2 separate regions of the Homo sapiens genome follow, and region 2 is linked to region 1. The links come from fine-mapping of genetic effects on gene expression. Tissue or cell type: activated CD8 T cells. Region 1 holds a variant in brackets; the other region holds the start of a gene. All regions are shown on one strand. Distances are from middle to middle.

What was found. PIP is the estimated chance that this variant, and not a neighbour inherited with it, causes the effect.
Region 2: ANKRD10 starts here. The variant in region 1 is fine-mapped to the expression of ANKRD10 in activated CD8 T cells (Schmiedel 2018, PIP 0.95).

What each region holds. Positions count from the first base shown.
Region 1 is chr13:110,870,915-110,879,092 of GRCh38, forward strand. It overlaps ANKRD10 (ankyrin repeat domain 10), which reads right to left. Exons shown (of 6, transcript NM_017664.4): 6 at 7,626-8,178. Among named protein-coding and RNA genes, the nearest start is that of PRECSIT, 4.7 kb to the left of the region's middle. RefSeq lists an enhancer at 1,940-2,817 and a silencer at 3,755-3,974. The variant CAAGG/C (reference allele first, on the strand shown) is at 4,953.
Region 2 is chr13:110,910,802-110,918,979 of GRCh38, forward strand. ANKRD10 (ankyrin repeat domain 10) reads right to left here and starts at 4,268. Exons shown (of 6, transcript NM_017664.4): 1 at 3,924-4,268. The coding sequence starts at 4,133. RefSeq lists enhancers at 2,880-3,556, 3,280-3,409, 4,908-5,582 and silencers at 3,520-3,889, 4,160-4,819, 4,950-5,109.

The DNA of each region.
Region 1 (8,178 bases):
ACTGGGTCATGCAAACCTGCCTCCCCTTTTGGTCCCTAAATAAGATGCTGCAAGATGAAAAACTGCACACCTCCCCTATATTTTGTCCACAAGGAAATTCCTAGTGAGCTCCGCAATCTTTACTGTAAGGTGTTTCTGTTAAGATTTCACCACAGCAATGCAAATCGATAGCTCATCTTTACAGGTGCAGTCAACCCCTGCCCGCCAGACACAAATGCAAACCTGATTGTTCCCCTGCCCCCTTTGTCTAAGTCATCTTGTGTAAAAATAATGCAGATTCAATGAGCCAAACGCATGACTATTTTTCTCTACCCGCCTCTTAGATGAAAATTGTGTACTTGTCATTATCTCACCCTTTCCCCTTTAAATTTGGAGCCCTCAAAATCATCTTCGGAGAAAGGTACAGACTGTCTCCCGAGTGTTCGTCCTTAACTTTGGCGAGTAAACCTCCTAAAATGATTGAGACTTGTCTTGTCATTTTTCTCAATTGATACACCTCAGTCTCCCAAGTAGCTGGGACTACAGGCATGCGCCACCAAGCCCAGCTAATTTTTGTATTTTTTGTAGAGACAGGGTCTCACGTTGTTGCCCAGGCTGGTCTTGAACCCCTGAGCTCAAACAACCTGCCCGCCCCGGCCTCCCAAAGTGCTGGGATTACAGGCGTGAGCCACTACGCCTAGCCAAGAGAATTTTAAAACCATTGAGGAAATAGTGCCATTGTTGTGAATCAGAGACTTGATGTGCTATTTCATGTAGTGGTTCCTGTCGTTTTGCTTGCAAAATTGGCTTCAATTATCTTGAATTATATGAACTGTCAGAAAAGCCCTGCGGCAGATGATGGTAACGAAAAGACATCCTTTAGCAGACAGGGAATAGGACTGATTCACTGATGCATCTGAGTTGCAATTTTTTTAGCTGCTTCTAAAAATCTTGTAATTAAATTCACTGGTGAGAGCACAGTAGCCTTCATAAATGGGAAAACAGAAACATCGAAGTTGTTCTCAAACCATCCTGGAATCTTAAAGTTCAGGGGGCACCTGGCAGAGGGGAGCCACAGAAAGACGGCAGGGAAGGGAGGGTTAAGGCGAGGCCGGGATAAGCCAAGCAGGGCTGTTCTGGTTTATCTTTCTTACTTTGTTCTTAAGAAAACTTGCTGAATGTAGTTGGCTTCAGATCTTCCTGTTTTAAAAAAAACGCAGTAAGATGAAAAACCTGATGTGTCCTCTGCCCTTCCCCGTCCCTCCCGCCTCTCCCTGCGGGGGGTGAGCACTCCTCAGAGTGCCTGGTGGAGAGGCCCCTGCCCTCCCCTGCACGGAGCTGGGGTGGCCTTAGGCCAACAACCATCAAAGAACTCAGGCCCTTAGTTCAGCGACCCGGGGGGAACTGGGTCCAGTCACCAGCCATGTGCGTGAGCTTGGATGCAGAGGCTCCAGGGGAGCTTTCAGATGAGACTGCAGCCCTGGCTGACACTGCACTGTGATCTCCTGAGAACGTGAGCCCAAGGAAGGGGCCCCTCCCCGGGTGGGACGTCCTGCCTCACAGCTCAACGCTCTGCTGCTGCTGTCAGTGCTGTGTTTTGAGGGGGATGCCCAGTTCTGCACTGACCAGCTCTAACCCTGGGGACACTGCAGCCCTGGTCATGGCCTGGGGACCCCTTCAAGGTGACCTTCCAGCACAGGTACTGGGCGAGTACCCACCCCTCAGCCTCTGCCAGACTTTGCCCAAGAGGCACATCCCTCTTTGCTGCACTGTGGACCTGCCTGCCCAGGTACTGGGGCACTTGGTCATCTGGTGGCTGTGACCATTACTGGGATGAGGCCTGAACTCCAGGTGGAGACCCCTTTCCCAAGCCTGCACTTCCCGCAGCCCCTCCCTGAGCCCTGGGACCTCCCAGAGTCCTCTTGACCTGTGTGGCTCTGCTTGCACAGGTTAGAAACTTCTAGTTCAGCTTCCCTGGCTGAGCCCTGCCGGTTTTTCTGCTGAATGCCCAGAGAATTGGGGGACCCATGGCCCCCCGCCCCGCCTGGCCACGGGGCTCGACAACACAGCAGCTGTAGGGCTTTTCACCTGGCCCTCACCTGTGGGGCCTCCGCCTCGTCCTCAGCTCTCCCTGCGGATTGACCACAAAGTGGTCACTCAGAGTCCCCTCGGGGATGGTTTCAGAGCTTCACCGGCCTCCCTTCCCCACCCTGCAAACCTTCAAAGCCCGAGCCCACGCCTCGCACGTGCTATTCCCAACAGAGAAAAATGTGACCCCATCCACGTCCTGCCCCAGACACCCAGGAGCTCCAGTCCTCTCCCCTTTCCGCGGACTGGAAGCTTCTCCAGGGCTTGAGATGTCCACCTTCCCAGCGATTCCTGCCCGGGAGACTCCGATTCCGACCCCATTCTGTCCACATGTCCCCTTTCCAGCCCCATCTCCCCCTGCCCATTTCCTGAGACCTCTCTAAGGACCCTAGGCTCCTGAGCGGACCCCAGCAGGGCCCCTGAGCTCCATGATTCTGCACTGCCTGGGCCTTCCCGCCAGAGCCGACCCTGGCCCCCAACAGGAGGCCGAGCTGCCCTCAGGGGCCTCTTCACGGTGGGCAGGCGCCCCCGACCCCGGCCTCTCCTCCCCAGTGGCCTCTCCGCCCCTCCCCTCCCCCATGGCCTCTCCTACGCTCCCTCCGCCCTCTCCCATGGCCTCTGATCCTCCTCCCTCCCCCCTCGCCAAGCGCCTGCTCTTCCATCCATTCTCCACATCGCACATCACACACAAGACATTCACACACATGCATATATTCACACCCACACAAGTCACACATATATTCACACACACACGTCACACGACATTCACACACATGCATACATTCACACACATCCACACCCACACAAGTCACACACACATAACATTCACACACGCACATTCATCCACACATGTACAAGTGACACATTCACACACCTGCATTCACACACATCCAGATACACAAGTCACATTCACACACATGCCCACACCTCGACACAACACCCACATGCAACATTCACACACATCCACACGTGCACAATAGCCACACACGTTCACACATGCACACATATAACATGTTTCACATACACTACCACCCATGCACATCAGCCACACATATAAAACAGTCACACCTGCACACACACAGTCACAAACGTCACACACATATAGCATTCACACATGCACAGCAGCCACATTTACACACATCCACATGCATCACACATTCATACACATCTGCACACACGTCACACAAATCAACATTCATACGTGCGCACACATCATACACATCCACACACATCACGTACATTCACACATAAACATTCACACATTCACACACACCAGATTACCACTCACATCCAATACTCAACGCTTCCCTTCACATTCTCACACATTTGCACACTCACACATTGCCAACGACACACTTCCCTCCACATTCCCCCTACATTCCCACACTGACACGCTCTCACACACTCCCAGTCCTCGCACACATTTGCACACTCACATCCATACATGGACACACATCCTCATGCTCGCTCACTCACATGCATTTGCAAACACTGATACACATCCTCACACGCACACTCGCACACTCAGGGTCTCCCTGGCTGCAGCTGTGCCCGGGCTCACTGTTACCGTTGCTCAGTGCAGACTCTTGGGGTGGTGTCCACCTCCAGCCCCCAGCTCCAGCCGTGCCCTGCCGCAGCCCCCGCTACCCTCCCACCGCCCCGGGACCCCTCACCCGCCCCGGCCCATCCCAACCACGGCCTCGCCCCAACCTTGGCTGCGGTTCCCCAAGCAGAGCCGCGCCAGAACCGCCCGGCTCACCCCCCTCTCCCCGCCCCTGCGCCTCTCTCCCGGTTCCCGCCCTCCTGATGGTTCGTCCCTGCACCCGCGCCGGCGCCCCGCCCCCGGTTCCCGCCCTCCCGAGGGCTCCTCCCTTCCACCCGCTGCCTGTTTCTTGGCTCCCCCTTTCCGGGAAACTCTTCAATGTTTCCCATGTTCTGTCTCCAAATTATTCTCCCGTTTTCTTCTCCTTAATAAAACCCCGAAAATCCAACCTATGGAAAAGTCAAAAAGGGTAATTCAATGAATACCCAGTCTACATTTTCCAGTATTTATCACTAGTTGCTTAGATCTCATCATTCAAAACATTCCAGCAGTTCTCTCACTGTGGCCTGCAGAACCCCAGGGTCCCCAGGACCCCATTTCAGGGGGTCCCCAAAATCAAAACGGTCTCATTACCGAGATGTGATTTGCCTTTTTCAGTGTTGACTTCGGCACTGAGGGTTCAAAAGAAATGGTGGGTAAAGCTACTAGCACCTTAGCAAAAACTGCCCCGGCCTGATCACCTTCATATTCTTCACTGCCGTGCAGTCAAAAAAAAGAAAAAAACCCAATTTCACTTAAGAATGCCCTCAATGCTGTAAACATGAGTAAATTTTGACAGCACACGTTCTCTGTGATGTAAAGGGAAGTGTGCATGAAGGATTTGTTGTGTACAGCTGTCTCCAGGAAAAGCACGGCTCTGGCTGATTGTGCGATAAGTGTATCCAGTGACTTTTTCAGAAACGTCATTTTCATTTGAAATAATGATTGACAAGCTATGTGATTAAAAAAAAAATAACCAGGTTGTAATGCAGTGGCTCAAGCCTGTAATCCCCGCACTTTAGGAGGCCAAAGTGGGCGGATTGCTTGAGGTCAGGAGTTTGAGACAACCTGGGTAAAATAGTGAGACCCCATCCCCCCAAAAAAAAAAAAAATTGCCGGGCATGGTGGTGCACGACTGGAGTCCCAGCTACCTCCAAGGCTGAGTCAGGAGGATCCCTTGAGCCCAGGAAGTCAAGGCTGTAAGGAGCCAAAATCGCATCACTGCACTCCAGCTTGTGCGACAGAGTGAGACCCCGTCTCAATTTAAAAAAACCAAAAAATTAACCAAGTGAGTCTTCTACTT[CAAGG/C]AAAACTGACAGTATTTGTGTCCAATGATAAAATTTGAGTTTTTCAGCAAAAATCAGGATGTTGTAAAACTTGTATCCAGTACCATGAGCTTGACAACTTCCAACTTTTGACTTTCATGAGATTATTGGTGATCAATGTTTTATTTTTTTGAGACAGAGTCTTGCTCTGTTGCCCAGGTTGGAATGCAGTGGCGTGATCTCGGCTCACTGCAACCTCTGCCTCCCAGGTTCAAGCGATTCTCCTGCCTCAGCCTCCCAAGTAGCTGGGATTACAGGTGCGTGCCACCACACCCAGCTATTTTTTTTTTTTTGTATTTTTAGTAGAGATGGGGTTTCACCTTGTTAGCCAGCATGGTCTCTATCTCCTGACCTCATGATCCACCTGCCTCGGCCTCCCAAAGTGCTGGGATTACGGGCGTGAGCCACCGCACCTGGCTGGTTATCAATGTTTTAATATTAATGAAAAGTTTCAACATTTGAAAGACTTGCAGAACTCAATTAAAAAATATTTCCCAAGTAATGCATAAAAAATTATGCATGGGTTAAAGGTCCATTCTAAGTGAAAGATGGACTCTACAGGAACGATACAAGAAGCTCACTGATGTGGATCCTGATTCAACATTGCAACTAGCCTTTAAGAAACTACTGTTACTGAATGGAAGGTCTTGACTGCGAGTTGTCCAGGTTCCTGGTGCAGCTGAATAAAGAATGGAACCAAACACACAAAGCAACAAAAGAAGTAAACAACGAAAGAAGCAAAAAAAGCGCAGATTTATTGTAGCAAAAGTACCCTCCAGAGTGGGAGCCAACTTGAGCCAGGGTCAAGAGTGCCCCCTCTAGGGTTTTTACTAAGCTAAAAGAATTTGGTAACACCCCTAGGTGACCTTTAGAGGCCTCCAATTGGCTGCACCCTATGAAAGATTAGCCTGCAACCAATCAGAGGCTGAAGTGGAGACTGTCTTGTTATCACAGGTAGGAGGCTGTGGTCTGAGTGCTGCCTAATCTTGCCTAGAACTGGCTGTACCTGCTGTTCTTTTGCTTATGCCTTAGCCCTTGGTTACCCTAACTTCCTATTCTCCTGCCCCACGACCACTACAGAGTTTGGGCATGGTATCAAGTACTCACAATTAACTGCAAAGACGATTCAAATATCCCTTTTTCCAATTACCTATCTGTGTAAGGCCAGATTTTCTCCACATACTTCAACCAAAAATTTATTTAGGTATTCTATCTCTGAGTAATGTTTTATAGTTTTCAGTGTAGAGGTCTTGAACATCTTTTGTTAAGATATTTTCATAGGTATGCCATGGTTTGGGTGTCACTGTAAATGGGCTTTATTTCATTTTCCAATTGTTTCTACTAGTACAAGAGAATGCATGCATGGGAAAGTATCTGCAGGCCAAAAAGGCTAAGACTCAGTGAGCTATTCTTGCAGTCAGTATAAACGTCAATTCTGGTGGACACAGAAATACCTAAGCTTATTCTCAATGTTAAAATGACAACCATATTTTTTAATAGAGCATTTTTTCTTCAAGTCCTGAAAAAAAAAACCCCAAAAAACTTGTCTCAAATAAATACAAAATACACAGACTAACGCACCTTCACATACCCACCACCCAGATTTAACATCGGCCTGCACCAGTTGTGTTTGATCCTTGTCTCCACTCACCAGGGATCATGGGCTCCACTCATATTTTTATGGTTTGAAGCAAATTCCAGGCATGAAAGCAATTCCATCATCACCATTTCCTTATGTATCACTAAATAAGAACTGAATATACTGGTGTAAATGACTCTAAACTAGAATATGACAAACTACTTCAATCATCCACTCAAGTGTGGATGTTGCCCTACTCTAGGTTCTATGCAACATTTTTGTTCCTAAGCAGTCATCTTCTGTCCAAAAATTCAAGACTAATCAAAAGTATGTTTACTGTGTTTTCAGAGATTCACAACGTTTTTCAGCAAATAATTAAGTCACTATAGAACATCTGGAATACCTTAGAAAACAGTCCAAACGGGATGGCATCAAGTTTCATCTCTCTTAAAAACTCAGTAGTGTGGGTGGCTTCTTGGATCAGTCTGAGGCCAAATCTCAGTTCTAAGCTTGATTACTAGTGTCTGCCATAGGATGGGAGGCGGTGGCCTGGACAGCGCCATGCATTCTCTTCCTGTTCTCACTGTAATTTTTGCAAAACTTCCAAAGCATAATGCTCCCTCATTGTGGTCTATTAAGTTTTTACAAGAATATGCATGATGCAGTGAATGTTTTAAATTGCATATGTAGGCATGCCAGAATGGCTATATTGGTGCTATTTATAACTGTAATTCATATTCCTAAAAGGCTTACATTAATTAACAGTTGCTAAAACCAAAGAAGTTTAGAACATTATGGTTGCTGTCTTTTATGAAAATAAGCACCCAGGCACAATACTGAACTGACATGCAATTCATCCTTCCTCCACAGAGGTTCAGTACCAACGGTGCCCATAAAACTAGAGTAGAAACTCAAAAATAGAAAAAACACCGTATGAAGAGTGTCAGAAGAGTCAAGTAAAATCTTATAAGCAAAATGAAACAATAGTAAACTTCTCTTCCCTTCCCATTCCTTCCACAGATATCCACACCCCGCCGGCCCCCAAGCCCAGAGAGAAACCCCAGGGACACACTGAGTGTGAGAGTTTTTTATTCAATTTGTGAAGGACAGTTTTAGAACAAAATGTTAGTAACACTCTTAGAACACTGGTTTGTTCATTTGACATTTTATCTGCACCAATTTTTATTACAAAAATCAAAAAAGTAAAAATTCATTACAATATTTGCAGAGTATAACCACTAGTTGCCTAGACAAAAGCTAATTTCTACAAAATCAAAAACTTAATGCAGTTTTATTAAGAGAGTCAAAATTCTCTCAGTTAACTGGATATACATAGTGGTATATATCTTAAAGCAGAAAACCCCAAAAAACAAAAACAAGGAAAAAAGAAAATACATGTCAACAGTCAGTTAAATATTTTGACCTGACAGTTTCTACAAATAGTGATTTCCACTACATATAAAGGAATCTGTTACATGTGGTAAAACTTCCAGAGACCAAGTAGGAAGTGTGGAATAAAAACAATAAATCCAAACGCAGCCCCAGGCTGGGCCTGTTTTCCATGAAGCCCAAGGCAGTGATCTTCATCATTAAGGAGGGACCACTGTGTCCACAACTAAAACCTT
Region 2 (8,178 bases), 40 kb after region 1:
CAGACATGTCAGTACACTATTCAATATTACATGAATAATCGAAATTCTATAATGGTGACAAATGGCATTGTTACCAGTTTTTTAACAGATTAAGTCACTCTTTCCCAATGCCATGCAAATTTTAAAGGACATTTAAGATAACATATTCCCTTGTCCTTATGAAAAAGACGGTAGATAGAAATAGAAAAATGCAAAAAGACGACTAACACTATACAGATTTAAATATTTGTTTCCCTACAATTGAATAAGCCAAAATCAGAAAATATTGGACTGCGCTGTTCCAAGACTTCTATCAAAACTGTTTGTTGCACAGACTATTCTAAACAAAAACGTTAAAGGGATTGGTGGGTTAAAAAACTTTGTGTAGGCCGGGCGCAGTGGCTCATGCCTGTAATCCTAGCACTTTGGGAGGCCAAGGCGGGTGGATCACTTGAGGTCAGGAATTCGAAACCAGCCTGGCCAACATGGTGAAACCCCATCTCTACTAAAAATACAAAAAAATTAGCCGGGCGTGGTGGCGGGCACCTGTAATCCCAGCTACTTGGGAGGCTGAGGCAGGAGAATTGCTTGAACCCAGAAGGCGGAGGTTGCAGAGGGCTGAGATCACGCCACTGCACTCCAACCTGGGCAACAGAGCAAGTCTCCATCTCAAACACCAACACCACCACCACCACTTTGTGTAATGCCAGGCGCAGTGCCTCATGCCTGTAATTCCAGCACTTTGGGAGGCCAAGGCGGGTGGATCACCTGAGGTCAGGGGTTCAAGACCAGCCTGGCCAACACGGCGAAACCCCATACTGGGGTTTCAAAAATACAAAATTACAAAAATTACCTGGGTGTGGTAGTGCATACCTAGAATCCCAGCTACTCAGAAGGCTGAGACAGGAGAATCACTTGAACCTAGGAGGTGGAGGTTGCAGTGAGCAGAGATCACGCCGCTGCACTCCAGCGTGGGCAACAGAGCAAGACCCTGTCTCAAAAAAACAAAAAACAACAACAAAAAACCCCACAAACTTTGTGTAGCCATAGTAAACTCGTCATAGTCAAAGACTATTTTCTATAGTGTGCACAACTGTGCACTTTTACACAAGCCAGCACTGAATACTCATTGAATAATCAATAGAGGCCCCATTCTCCACATTTTTTTACTCTTTTCAAAACCCTATGGGGGAAAAAAGCCTACAGCATAACTGAGCAATGCACCTAGTGGGTGACTAACATGGCAAGTTAAGACTTTGTGGCCAAGCACCAATACCATGATAGCCTCTGGCTAAAATAATTTAGCGCATTCAACAAATTTACCAAGTGCCTACCATGTGCCAAGCAACTGTTCAACCCACGTTCTCTGATCCTGGACTGCTCATTTTCCCTCACTCCAATCACAATGCAGTTAGGGAACAAGCTATGCCTGACTGCAAGCAATTCTCTTCAAGAGGAGAGACCTCACCTGAAGACAAAACACCTGACACTACCATCTCAACTCAAGGTTTCTTTTTCCATTTCTCTTAGCACTTTCAGGCTTTCAGTAAACACTCCTGTGAGATGAAGAGTACACAGATTCAAAACACCCTCTTCAACCAACTTGGACCTGGGAGTAAAGGCTGATGTCTATTTATTGCCTTTATTAATTCACTGGGTGAAAATGAAAGTATTAATTAGCGATAAGATGAACAGGTTGCAAATCCAATAAAAATAAAACGGATGAAAATCACTTGGCGTACCAAAAATCAGCTATTCAGGGCTCGCTGGCTTTAAACCTGTTACCCTTGGGTTCAATTTAGAAACTTGGATTTGGAATTCTGGAAAGATACTGTTCAATATGGTATAAAAGCTACAACAGAGATTTTAAACAACTCGTTTAGTCCTCTGGCAACAAACGAGTCTTACCAACGGTTAGGGGATCTTGTGCACCACTAGCACATTTCTAAGAACACGAGCCTGAAACCTGTGTAAGAGGGCAGCCGTTAGCAGGGCTGGGGAGAAAGCCTGGACTTCGCAAGCGGTAGCCCTGAGTCCTGGCCTGATTTCTGTCCTAACGGCTTCTTCTCAGAAGGGAATGTTTGGACACTGGACAGGGGCTTTCTAAGGCCCCTTCCGTATCTAAGACCAAAGAGCCCTATGATTCAGACAGCTGGAAACAATGAAGTAACTGCTTCTTGTTACAACATTTGATGACCAAGGTAAAGCTACTACTCAAAGTCCCATGGAAGTAGACTTTTGAAAAGTGATTTCAGTCGGTGTTTTTTAAAAAACTGTGATAAAATACACATTAAAAATTACCATTTTAAAGTAACTATTTTAATCCCCAGAGACAAGTGGAGGCACCACTGGATTAAATTTTCTAAGTGACCATCTGTAATGAGGCTTTAAGCATTCTACAGATCGTTGTTCACTGACTATCACCCAGTATTGTGTCGTTCTCAACCAGGGTAGAAAGGACAGAATCCTAAAGTTTAGTGTAAAAATAAACCACAGCAAGAGACACTCTGGAGGGAGGAAATCCTCAGATTACTGACTGCCTCGGGAAATCTATTTAAGGCTGCACGCAGAAGCGCAGGGAGGAGGCTTTATTACTTTTGTTTGTTAAGAAACTCATTTCCCCTGGGCACCTGTTTTCTCCAGCAGGTACTACGGTTGCACAACTTCAGAGACAGTGCCACAGGAACCTAACAGCCCTTGAGGACTGATTAACTTGCTTGTCCCACCCCGATCGTCAAAACTCCTTTTCATTTCTTTTATTGAAAGAAAAGTGACTTTTCCACTTTAAAAGAATCAGAAACTGCTTTCCAAAAGACACAGCTGCTTTGTGAATGTAGCACCAGGGGCAGCAAGGTAAACCGCAACTTCATCAGCTGGTAACGACATTACCAGGGCCAGGCCTTCTTAAAGTAACTTATTTCACATTACCTCTCACATATTTCTGCAAAACCATTTAACCCCATCTCATCACTTACGAGAAAAACACTATACACATCCCTGAATTTCAGTGAATTAAGAAATATTAATTAAAACCAGTCACTTCTGAAATGCACGGTGAAATCTTATTTAAGATTTCTGAGAGCAAGTACCCCAACGACTTCACAGATGAGGAAACGGTAGCTATCCAACCTTTTAAAACCTTAAAGCAGCACTGTGTTCCCCCAGAATTTTCAGTTTAAGAAAAAAGAGGGGAACGTAAAGCCTCCACGGGAAGAGAATTCTGCTTAATTTAACCACTTCTGCAGTAATTTAGATCCAAGATAAACACAGCCGTCACTAATTTTGCTGAAGCGGGGCCAGCTACAAGCCTTAAAGCAAACCCAGAAGCTGGAGAGCCGGCCTCCATCCCACACAGCTGCCGGGGCCTTCCAGTCCCGCCGGGGCGCTTGCTCCTCGGCTGAGCTCGTCCGCAGCGCGGCCCTCGGCTACTGGCGAGGCTGTGCGGAACCAGAAGGTCGACCGCGCCCGGGCATTCCCCGCGCGCCTCTGACCCCAGCTCGGCTCCCCGGAAGCCGCCTGGGCGACTTCGCGGCCTAATACCCGGCTCTGCGAAATCGCTCGCGCCTCCGGCCCGGCCTGGAGGGCCCCGCACCATCCGCGCGCGCGCGCGCTCGCACAGGATCCGGCCAACAGGCGCCGGGACCCTTGGAGCCCGCCTTGTTAGAAACTTGCTACGCGCGCCGCCGCACATGCGCCCTAGGCCCCTCCGGACGCAGGCGCCACCGACCTCGCTTCCGCCCCGCGCCCCCCGGCTGCCCCGCCGCGACTCCGGGCCGCGAGCGCTGCCGCACAGGCGCCCTAGGCCCCTCGGGGCACAGGCGCCGTCGATCCCGCTTCCGCCCCGCGATCCCGGCACGCCCCACGTCCCCCGCACCTCAGACCCGCTTTCCCCGACTCCCACTGGACAGCCGGGGAAAATGGCGCCTTAAAGCGTTCGCACCCACCTTGCCGAAATGCGCGGCCCAGTGCACGGGCGTCCAGCCATAGAAGGAGTCCTCAGAGGCCAGGTGGGCGTGGGGTGTCTGCTGCAGCAGCGAGCAGAGCGTGGCCAGGTCCCCGTCGCGGCAGGCGCGGTGCAGCGGGAAACGGAGCGAGAGCAGCTCCTCGCTGGAGAAGCCCGCCTCTACGCCCGCGCCCGCTCCCGCCGCCGACATGGTCCGTCACCGGAGAGCGCGGGGCTCGCTGGCCTAGAGGACGCGTCGGGGAGGACTCGAGAAGCCGCCGCCGCAGCACAAAGGAACGAGACTAGCGCCGCGGTCGCGTCCCACAGGCTGCCGAGCGGAGCGCGCACAGAGGGGGCGGGGCGGGGCCTGGAGCGGCCGGGCTGGGGGCGGGGCCTGGCCCAGAGGACGCCTTGTGCAGCCGGGCAGGGGTCGGGGCCTGGAGCCGCGGACCTCTGGAGCCGCCGGGCAGGGGGCGGGGCTTGAGCCGGAGGCCGCCTGGAGCAGCCGGGCGGAGGGCGGGGCTTGGAGCTGCGGACGCCTGGAGCGGCCGGTAGGTGGCGGGGTCTAGCCTAGAGGATGCCTGGAGCAGCCGGGTAGGGAGCGGAGCCTGGACCAGAGGACGCCAGCAGCAGCCGATTAGGAGGCGGGGCATGGGGCTGTCGACGTCTGGAGCAGCCGGGCATTGGGCTTGGGCTAGAGGACGCCTGGGGCGGTGGGCGCCTGGAGTAGCCAGGCAGAGGGCGGGGCCTGGCTTGGGTCCACGCCTGGGGCGGCCGGGGGCGGGGCCTGGCTGGAATTGACGCGTGGAGCTCCGGTGGAGGGGGCGGGGCCTGGCTGGGCCGCTGCCTACAGCGGCTTCCGGGGCTTGGAGGTCACGGGGCTCGGAGGTCACGGGGCTCGGAGGTCACGGGGCTGGCTGTGTGGGGGGCTCAGGGGCGTAGAGTGGCCAAGCAGCGGTCTGAGCGGGTCCCGGGGCCTCCGGCGCGGTGGGTCTCGGCTGCGCCCCGGGTGCGGACCATGATGTTTCCAGCCTGGGAGCCGGTCCGGGCGGGGAATCCCGGCTGCCGGGGGCGCGGGTTGAGGCTCTGCGGGCCCGCGCCCAGAGCGGGTGGGAGTCACGGGTCTCCCGGAGGCCCAGTAGCGCGCGGTGAAGTTGTCCAGTAAAAATTTATGGAGCGCCTACGGGGAGCAGGGATTCTCGTTAAAATCTGGGAATCAGCAAGCCCTAGTTCCTTACAGAGCAGGACAGATTCCTCGGTTTTGTCCGAGGGACGCCTTCTTCGGAACCGAGTGCGGTGGGCTAGGACTATACGTTTGCAAGTTTAAGAGATAAGCGAGAAGACCAGACAGAGCAAACAATAAAAGGCTTTTTGTTGAGAACTGTATAAATGTAAGGGAGTACCAAATCCCCTATTTTGAATGACAGTATCACGGACTTTATTACATATGTAATTTTATTCTGATTATGAAAGCATCAGTAATTTCACTATTGAGGAATAACCACAATGTTTATGAATATTTCCTTTGCTTCTAAATATGCGGTCTTTTTAAATCATGTATTTTATTTCATTTGTATATATAGTTTTTCGCTGTGTAAACTTCCTTTTTGCAAAATTCTACGTCACAAATTGAACAAGGCAATTAGATGTCTAGGGAAGTACTGATGCACGAGAAAGCATATTGCAGCATTGGTTAATAAAACGAAAAAATAGAAACCTAAGATTTAACAAAGGGAAGTTGTTAACTAGTGGTGTAAACACTCAACACAGACATGTCTTCATACAGCAAACATTTGTTGAGTACAATGCTGAATGAAACACATTGAGAAACACTCTATAGTGGGGAAGTAGCAAATATTTCAATTCAGTGAGCAATTGCTAATGAATGGAAAATATGACACATAGAATCTATCTTCTCCCAGGGAGTTTGTAATCTGTTAGTGAAGCAGGAAAGAATAATCAAGCAATACTTTTTTGTTTGGACCAAAAGGGTGAGAATAGACTATAAACTCATTTCAGGTTTTGTTTACTCTAGAACGTAATCATTTTTCTTCTCACATGCCATGTTGATTTTAATCTAATCTCTTTAAAATATATCCCCCTGATTTCCATCTTTCTTAGGAGAGAGGTGTCCCATTTTGCGAAAGGACGTGAGTGTATCTTGTCCTCCATGTAATGAAAGGGAGGGATTACTTGCTAGGCTGCATTCTGGGAATGGTGAAACAGAGATGGTGGTAAGTCAAGGAATTTGTCCAAGGGCAAACTGCATGCCTGTGGCAGAGCTTAGAATAATATCCAGACCTAGGTTCCAACCCACTGTTAGATTTTTTTTAACTTTGGAATTTATTTTGCATAGAGTATTAAGGGCTAGGAAGATAAAATAGGTTATAGTGATAGGGTACTTCGTGTACGTCTTTCCTCACTTCAGATGACTGGGTTTTTTAAAGGATTATTTAGACTATATACATATTTATTTAGCTGTACAGGAGTAGACTGACATATATACGTGGTGATGGATCCCCAAGACAGATCCTGTAACTGTGGCAGGAGGATTGTGGATAGGATGGTGTCTACTGACTATTCCCAATGCCAGTGATCTAATTGGTTGGTCACCCAGATTTTGCTCAACTCTGATAATTGTCAGATGCATTCCAACTAGAACTACTCCATCTTAAATGGGGCTGGGTAAGATGAGGCTGAGACCTATTGGGCTGCATTCCCAGATAGTTAAGGCATTCTAAGTCACAGGATGAGATAGGAGGTCAGCACAAGATACAGGTCATGAAGACCTTGCTGATAAACAGGTTGCAGTAAAGAAGCCAGCTAAAACCCACCAAAACCAAGATGGTGACGAGAGTGACCTCTGGTCATCCTCACTGCTACACTCCCACCAGCGCCATGACAGTTTATAAATGCCATGGCAACATCAGGAAGTTACCCTATGTGGTCTAAAAATGGTAGACATGAATAATCCACCCCTTGTTTAGCATATAATCAAGAAATAACCATAAAAATGGGCAACCAGCAGCCCTCGGGGCTGCTCTGCCTAAGGAGTAGCCATTGTTTTATTCCTTTACTTTCCTAATAAACTTGCTTTCACTTTACTCTGTGGCCTCACCCTCAATTCTTTCTTGAGTGAGATCCAAGAACCCTGCCTCTCCTGTGGTCTGGATTGGGACCCCTTTCCTGTAACAATCATTACCAATCTCAGATTTCCTTTGAGACTCTCATTTTTTAAAAGCTCCAAAGAGAAGAAGAGTAGATTCATAACATCTTTTTCATCTGATGAAGCAACCATACACAAGCCAACTTAGGCATTTGAAGATACAATCCAAATCCATGAAAGAAAACAGGAAAACTCAAAACTTAACATATTAAGATTGCCTTTAGACTGGAATTTTTTTTTTTTTCAAAAAAGGATTGCATTGTATGAGAAATTGTGGAAGTGGGGTAGGGCTCAGTTGTGTGAATGGCACAGTGATTCAGTGTCCATACGTGTGACAGACATTGATGGGCATCTCTTGAGTGTCGTTATTACACCAGGAGCAGTGCGCCCTGAGGGACGTGGGGTTGGAGAGCAAGGTAGGCCCCAGTTGATGTTCCATATTAAGCATGCCATGCTAAGGAGTGGCTTTTTACTTTCAAAAAGTTTGGGAACCAATGAGGGGTTTTGTTGTGCCATTTAAGGGAGGGAGTGATGACTTGGGATGGAGGGGTGGGGGGACCCGGGTCAGACTTGCAGCTTGGCTATGAGGATGGAGATCAGGGAGCCCACTGTGACAACACCTTCAGGACTCAACGTGGGCCTGCAAGCCTTGCTGTTTTCTCCTCGGCCCCTTCTCCATTCCTATCCACATCCACTACGCTGGCAAATCCATCTTTTGAGAGGGCAAATCTGCTTAAAAATTGATGTAGGAACAGTTTCCAAAACTTGTCATTCAGATACCACCTGCATGTGGATTTTTTTTTTTTTAGACAGGATCTCACTCTTGTCACCCAGGCTGGAGTACAGTGGTACAGTCATGGCTCACTGCACCCTTGACCTCCTGGGCTCAAGGGATCCTCCTGCTTTGGCCTCCGAAAGCCCAAAGCACTGGGATTACAGGTGTGAGCCATGGCTCCTGGCCATATGTGGACTTTTATATCTACATAGGATTGATATTTTTTTCTTAAAACTGGTTCACTTTTTTAAACTTAGCCACTTCATTCACATCCTCTCATTAATAAACCATTAGTGAGTTTGTGGTGCTGGTTAC